2 linked regions of the Homo sapiens genome follow. The protein of the gene in region 1 interacts with the protein of each later gene in a pairwise test. Each region holds a gene or a part of one and is shown in the gene's direction. Other genes may lie near its edges.

Region 1 (3,838 bases):
CAACGGAAGTCTCTCCAGAGTTTGGAAATCTTTACCAACAAAGAAAAATTCTGATGTGTTCTCTTTCAGTTGAACATCCTCAGATGACTTTCGGCAGGCTCCACAGAATCATCCCGAAGGTGAGTATCTCTCAAATCTAAAGGACCAGAGAACCTTTTTCCTTTCATGGATGTGAACACTGATAAGACAGGGAGAATATCAAAAACGCCCTCATTGCCTCTTTCTCCCCATGTCTATCACAACAACTTATGTAGCACCGACGGCTTGATAATACTAACAGTTGTGATCCTTAATACTTCTTTTGTTTTCATAGTGATGCCAGATACTATTTTAAGCAGTTCACATGGATTAATTAATTTAATCCATAAGAAGACCTCTATGACATTGTTTCTTTTATTATCTCCAAATAGTAATGAGTCACACACTTCGGTTGTCATCCATATAAAAGCCATGTGACTTGGCACAAATCTTCTAAGTTATCGGAGCTCCAGATTCCTAGTCCATGAAATGGAAGTAAAGAATAATAGTTCATGTTATAGACCATAGTTATCAGCAACATAATAATAAAATGAGGCTATCGGGGTACAGAGATGTTAAAGAATTTTCCTGGGGCACAGTGTCAGTGGTAGTCTAATCCAGAGCTCCAAGCCATTTAAAGCTCATTCACGTTTGTATTTGTTTATGAAGTTCAGATGTTGCTCACTAGGGCTTTACCCCATAGGGCCTACTGGTGCTTCCATTGAGACACCCACTCTCGCAACAGGAAGGACCAGCTGGCCTCTGCTCTGTTACCGGGGCCACTCCCATGGCTTAGGAATCGCTTTGACTGTTGGCCCCTCCTTGAGCTCCTTGAGGGCTTTGTCTGCACCTGGGGCATCCGAGAAGCCCCAGTCCCAGCCCAGGGGATCCCTCAGAGGCCCCTGAATGAGTGATTCTGGAAGTGCAGATTCAGCTCTGGTTTAGAAGGTAAAGGGATCTGGGAGTTGGGTTGCCAGTATGGAGAACGAATTCAAAGAAGGATCCAGAAAGGTATTCAATGTTATTATTATTACATTTGAACAATGTTTACAAGCTCAGAGAGGATTTTCCCTTAGCTTATTTTACATGTATTATTCACTATTTCATAAGTGAGGAAGCTGAGTAAAAAGTAGCTTAAGGGCCGGGCGCGGGGGCTCACGACTGTAATCCCAGCAATTTAGGAGGTTGAGGCGGGCAGATTACGAGGTCAAGAGATCGAGACCGTCCTGGCCAACATGGTGAAACCTCATCTCTACTAAAAATACAAAACTTAGCAGGGCGTGGTAGCGCCTGCCTGTAATCCTAGCTACTCAGGAGGCTGAGACAGGGGAATCGCTTGAACCGGGGAGGAGGAGATTGCAGTGAGCCAAGATCGCACCACTGCACTCTAGCCTGGTGACAGAGCGAGACTTTGTCAAAAAAAAAAAAAGAGTAGCTTAATATTGTTGGTCAGTGACACATCCCAGTGTAACCAGAATTGGTATGGGTACCACCTCACTGAATTCCACATTCAATGTTGGTGCCTCGGTAGGGTGGTATGCCAGATCTGGTACTGCTTTCTTTGCTGCCTAGATTAATTTCAGCAAACCATTTCTTTACCTCTCCCTTCCCTGTATTCATCTCCCCACACCATCTTTCCCAGCAGTGTTTTGTCCCCTCCCTATGTTTTTACATTTACTCTCCCAGCAGCTGTCTACGAGCTTATATGGGATCCCTTGTATTTTATAGAAGCTCTTCCTTTTGTAGACCTTGTGAATTCTTAGAATGCTATTTTTCTCCAAATATTCTGTGTACTACACTCTCAACTACATGGAGATTTCTGCTGTTTCCACGAATGTCAGTCTTAAAAGAGTGTGAAGATAAGCATTCTAGCCCTGGAAACTGCATTCATTTAGGCCATTCCTTTTGCTTCTAATCTCCCAGGTTTGTCTCATTTAGGCAAGTGTAACTCTCCCCGCGTTGTTGAGAACATTCATTAAGGTAATGCATGTGAAGACGCTTTGTAAGCTCTAAAGCACTATAGAAATGTCACTGATACTGTTTATCTGTAACCTTCACATTATAAAGATCATGCCCAAGAAGCCAGCAGAGGACGAAAATGATTCGAAGGGAGTGTCAGAAGCATCTGGCCCACAAAACGATGGGAAACAACTGCACCCCCCAGGAAAAGCAAATATTTCTGAGAAGATTAATAAGAGATCTGGTAAGAGGAAATGATTTGGGAACAACTTCTCTGGCTTTTCTGGCTATGTTCAGGTGTGTGGACTGGGTGTGTGGCATGGATCCCAGACAAGCCTGGGTCCAGGCTGGGCTGAAGAGCTCGCCCAGCTCCAGATGAGATGTTAGACATGACTTCCAGAGATGCAGACTGGAGTTGTCATCCATATAAAAAACCACGTGACTTGGGACAAGTCTTCCAAATTTTCTCAGCTCCAGATTCCTAGTCCATAAGATGGAAATAAAGAATCATAGTTCGTAAATTGTTTGGAGGCATTAAATTAAATCCTGAAGGCCTGATGACATGAAAGGTGCTCAAGCGATTCTATCTGTGATAACCTGGGATCATATCTTACTCAGCTCAATGCCTGATACCCAATACAGGTGTACTTCAGAGATATTGCAGGTTGGGTTCCAGAGCACTGCAATAAAGTGAGTCACACACATTGTTTTTCGTTTGTTTCGCAGTGCATAAAAACATTATGTTTACACTATAGTGTACTCTACTAAGTGTGCAATAGCATTATGTCTAAAAATGTACATACCTTAATTTTAAAATAATTTATTGTTAAAAAATGCTAACAATCTTCTGAGCCTTCAGTGAGTTACACTCTTCTTGTTGGTGGAGGGTCTTGCCTCGGTGTTGATGGCTGCTGGCTGATCAAGGTGGTGGTTGCTGAAGGGTGGAGTGGCTGTGGCAGTTTCTTAAAAGAACACAACAATGAAATTTGCCACATCGATTAGCTCTCCCTTTCATGAAAGATTTCTCTGTAGTATGTGATGCTATTCGATAGCATTTAGCCACTTTAGAACTTCTTTCAAAGTTGGAGTCAATCATCTCTAGCTATGAAAGTTTTAGATGGCATCTACTTCCGATAAAAGGCTGTTTAATCTATATTGAAAATCTGTTGTTTAGTGTAGCCACGTTCATCAGTGATCTTAGCTAGATCTTCTGGATAACTTGCTGCAGCTTCTCCATCAGTGTTTGCTGCTACACCTTGCACTTTTATGTTATGGGGACAGCTTCTTTCCTTAAACCTCACAAACCAACCTCTGCTAGTTTCACACGTTTCTTCACCTCTCTCAGCTTTCATGGGCTTGAAGAGAGTTCAGGTCTTGCTCTGAATTAGACTTTGGCTTAAGGGAATGTTGTGGCTGGTTTCATGTTCTATCCTGATCACTCAAACTTTCTCTATTGCAGCAGTAAGGCTGTTTTGCTTTCTTATTCTTGTGTTCACTGGGTATTAGTATTATTATTTCCTTCAAGAACTTTTCCTTTGCATTATATACTATTCTTTCTTTCAAGAACTTCTCCTTTGCATGCACAGCTTGGCTATTTGGTGCAAGAGGCCTAGCTTTCATCCTGTCTCGGCTTTCAGCATGCCTTCCTCACTAAGCTTAGCCATTTCTAGATTCTGATTTAATGTGAGAGAATGCGACTCTTCCTTTCATTTGAACAGTTAGTGGCCATTTTAGGATTGTTAACTGTCCTAATTTCAGTATCGCTGTATCTCAGGGAATAGGTAGGCCCAAGAAAAGGAAAAGAGATGGGGAAGAGCTCATTGGTGGAGCAGTCAGAATACACACAACATTGATCAATTAC
Region 2 (3,500 bases), on another chromosome or scaffold:
CTGAAGGGTGCGGGGAGTGGGCGGTAGAGAAGGGAGGCAGGCAGGGATCATAGCATGCCTGTACATGGATGGAAGGAGCCAGCAGAGGGGAAGCTAATGACAGCAGAGGCAAAGGGGATGGCTCACACCTGTAATTCCAGTGCTTTGGGGGCCAAGGTGGGAGGATCACTTGAGACCAGGAATTCAAGGCCAGCCTCGGCAACATAGTAGGACCCAATCACTACAAAACATGTCTTAAAAAATGAGCTGGGCATGGTGGCATGTGCCTGTGATCCTAGCTGCTCAGGAGGCCGAGGTGGGAAGACTGAGAGTTCGAGTGCAGTGAGCTATGATTGTGGCACTGCACTCCAGCCTGGGCAACCGAGTGAGATCCCCTCACCCCTAAAGAAAAGAGCTTAAAACTGCTTCTCTGCTCTGAGAAGCACAACTAACTGCCTTCACTGAAATATACCTCAGGCAGAGATTTGGGGTGAGATAGTAGGTCAGTTGATGTTCTGCAGGAAGGGGCAGCTTGTCCATATCAGCTCGCTCACGCCGCCAGTCCATTCTTAAGGAACTGCCAACCAGGACTGATGATGCATTTTAGCTTTGAGCTTTTGGGGGTTATCCTACCAACAAACAGTCCTTCGGGAAGAAAACAATCCCAGGAATTAACAGATCAGAATGTTCACACTGGTTAATCTTTTTCTAGCAATGAACATGAAGCTAGCAGAAGCTGGTGTGTTTCCAGATGGTTCCTCTAACCAAACTAATTTTTCACTGTTGACAAGTGAGGCAAGGGTTGCACTGGACCAAAGGCTGAGGCTTGGCCATCTAGCATTCCATGCAAAATGGTTTCCTATAAGCATTCCTTTTATTCTCTATTCTATCCTGGGTCTGCCTCAACCATGAGATAGGAGAGTCTCCGGTACTAGCTGCTGTAGCACTGCCCTTCATCCAGGACAGTTAAAGGAGTCTTGGACCTTTCTTTCTCTGGGATCGCTGCCCAGCACCTTCCTACAGAGATGACTTTGAAAGGAAAAAAAAAAAAAAAAAAAGGAAAAACAGCACACCATTCCAAGGAGCCTGGCATTCCTGAATCCTCCTTCCCTACAAGGTGCCTGTCACCTGTCTTTACTGCCTCCTTTTCCCTGTCATGCTCATCAGCTATGGCTTCTGTCCAAGTGCCTGAACAGAAGACTAGAACCTCCACTGCAGGCTGGTTTGAGGTCGTGATTTATGTCAGAATCTTGCACAGCACTGCTAATGTAAATTTCAGCTTTTTCCCTCTAGGATAAACACTTACCAAAGTATGCAACTTTTTTTGGTGGGAAGAGGGATTGTCCTGTGATTTCTACCCATTTTCTGAGGCCTGTGGAAATAAATCTTTAGGTACTTAAAGTTAGACCAAAAATAGAACAAAGTTAATACCAAACTTGAAAAAAAAAAAAAAAGAAAAGAAAAGAGCTGCCATTATGGAGAGCCAAGCCTCCCCTGACTACTCAGGCAAATGTTTTAAGAAGCAGTTCGTTCGTTCACTCATTCGTTTGCTCATTCGTTCATTCATTCATTCATTCATTGGGTCTTTGTGGCTTGCCTACTATGTGCTGGGCAGGGATAAGACAATTTCCAGTGGTGTTGGTTAGAGGATGAAAATAATATGAGCCATTAGCAAGTCTTCCTTGCATTTTCTCTGTGGTTTTGGATCAGCTCCAGCTGCTCTCCTGGGGGGACTGGTTGTCCCCAGAGGCCTGGCTAGCAGGACTGGGCAGCAGGCTTATCTTTCTGAAGGGTGAGGCCAGTGCCCTTGGTGCCCCTGCATGGGTGCCCGGTGATCGGTGTTAAGGGGTGCTGCTTGGAAAAGCCCTTGGGAGCCCTCTTCCTTGGCTGGAGTCCAGCCTTTCCCTCTTTACCCCAGCGTCCTTCATATTTGGTCCAGTTGGTTAGACTTCTGGTTCTCTGTGTAGCAGCCGGGTTCACAGTTTTACCTCGTGTGGGGCCAGGGAATTCTAGGCATGACCGTGTGTCTCATTATTGCCTGTCGCAGGGCAAGTCATGTGACCTGCCAGGCTTTGGCCTTCTCACCTGTGACTCTGGCTATTCTAAGATCTGGGAATGGGGACAGTGTCTCCATCACAGACACACCCCTGTAGGATGCCCTGTATTCTAGATACACTGGCTCTGACTGGAGATGGGGTGGAGGGTGATCTGCAGGGCTGGGCTGGGCCGGGGGAGCCTTGTGGGCCAAGGAGGTGCTGCATGCGGCTCCCTCGGCAAGGGTCCCGCTGGCTGTGCTCCAGGGGAAAAGGTAATGAGGAGCCACTTCCACTTCCCTTCAGTATAAATCCCACAATCAGGAAAATTGCTTCAATTGCTAAAAAACGCTGGTGGGGAAGTCCACTTATTTTTCATTTTTCTTGTGCACTTGCCACCCTCATGCATGAATCACTGTCGGTATGTAGATTAAATTTATACCCCCGTTATCTTTCATGTCTCTGGTGTGCTGGTGTCAGCTGGGCCTCCGGTGACTGAAAGCCCCCTGCCTGCTTTTTAGTGGGAGAGAGTGTGGCCCCTGTGGAGGAGGCTGCTGAAGGGTCTTCCCTCTGTTCCGGGGTCTCCTCTCAGCCCTCCTCTCCTTGGATCTCTGGTTAGGACACATTCTCCAGATTTGCGTGGTTTGTTGGGAGGGTTCGCAACAAGCATGATGAAAGCCTTGTTTCATTTTAATTAATTAATTTAGAGACAGGGTCTCGCTCTGTTGCCCAGGCTGGAGTGCAGTGGCGTGATCTTGGCTCACTGTAGCCTCAACCTCCCTGGGCTCAGGTGATCCTCCCATCTCAGCCTCCCAGGTAGCTGGGACTACAGGTGCACACCACTACACCCGGCTAATTTTTTGCATTTTTTGTAGAGGCAGGGATTCACCATATTGCCCAGGCTGGGCTCAAGTGATCCTCCTGCCTCAGCCTCCCAAAGTGCTGGGATTACAGGCGTGAGCCACCACACCTGGTGCCTTGTTTCATTTCAGTACCTGCTTTGCAAATTGGCTGGGATTGGATATTAAATATACAGGCCTTTTGAAAACACTCTCTAGTAACACATGTGTAGGCTTCCTTTCTCTGTTATACACACACACATAACACACACACACACACACACACACACACACACACAGTAGAGGTGGGTGCCTGCCAGCCTTCCTCTTTGATCCAGGTGATGTGGTTACACAGCAGTTGTGGAGGACCTGGTTCTCACCTGTGTTCTGGGAGGTCTAGAACCATCCAGAGCCGACTGTGTGCTTTGTTCTACATCCTCAGGTTCGGCCATCTCCGTGCACATCCTCTACAAGTATGGTGCTTTATCTGCTGATTTATTTATTCAACAAATATTAACTCTACTTTCCTGGGTCCTGAATCCCTTTAAGAATCTGATGAAAACCCAGGTCCCCTCCTGAGGCACAATTTTGAACAACTTAGCAGGTGGTTTACAGGCCTATGCTGACCCTCACGCAGAGAACTCCTGCT

What was found. Proteins that work in one complex are often made in the same cells at the same time.
Region 2: the proteins of SSX1 (region 1) and LHX4 interact in a two-hybrid assay, tested with the Homo sapiens proteins (one study listed by BioGRID).

Annotation. Positions count from the first base shown.
Region 1 is NC_000023.11:48,261,697-48,265,534, forward strand, and holds part of SSX1 (protein SSX1), read left to right. Parts: intron 1-69; coding exon 70-119; intron 120-2,085; coding exon 2,086-2,221; intron 2,222-3,838. UniProt on the Homo sapiens protein: Could act as a modulator of transcription. Plays a role in spermatogenesis.
Region 2 is NC_000001.11:180,261,264-180,264,763, forward strand, and holds part of LHX4 (LIM/homeobox protein Lhx4), read left to right. Parts: intron 1-3,500. UniProt on the Homo sapiens protein: May play a critical role in the development of respiratory control mechanisms and in the normal growth and maturation of the lung. Binds preferentially to methylated DNA.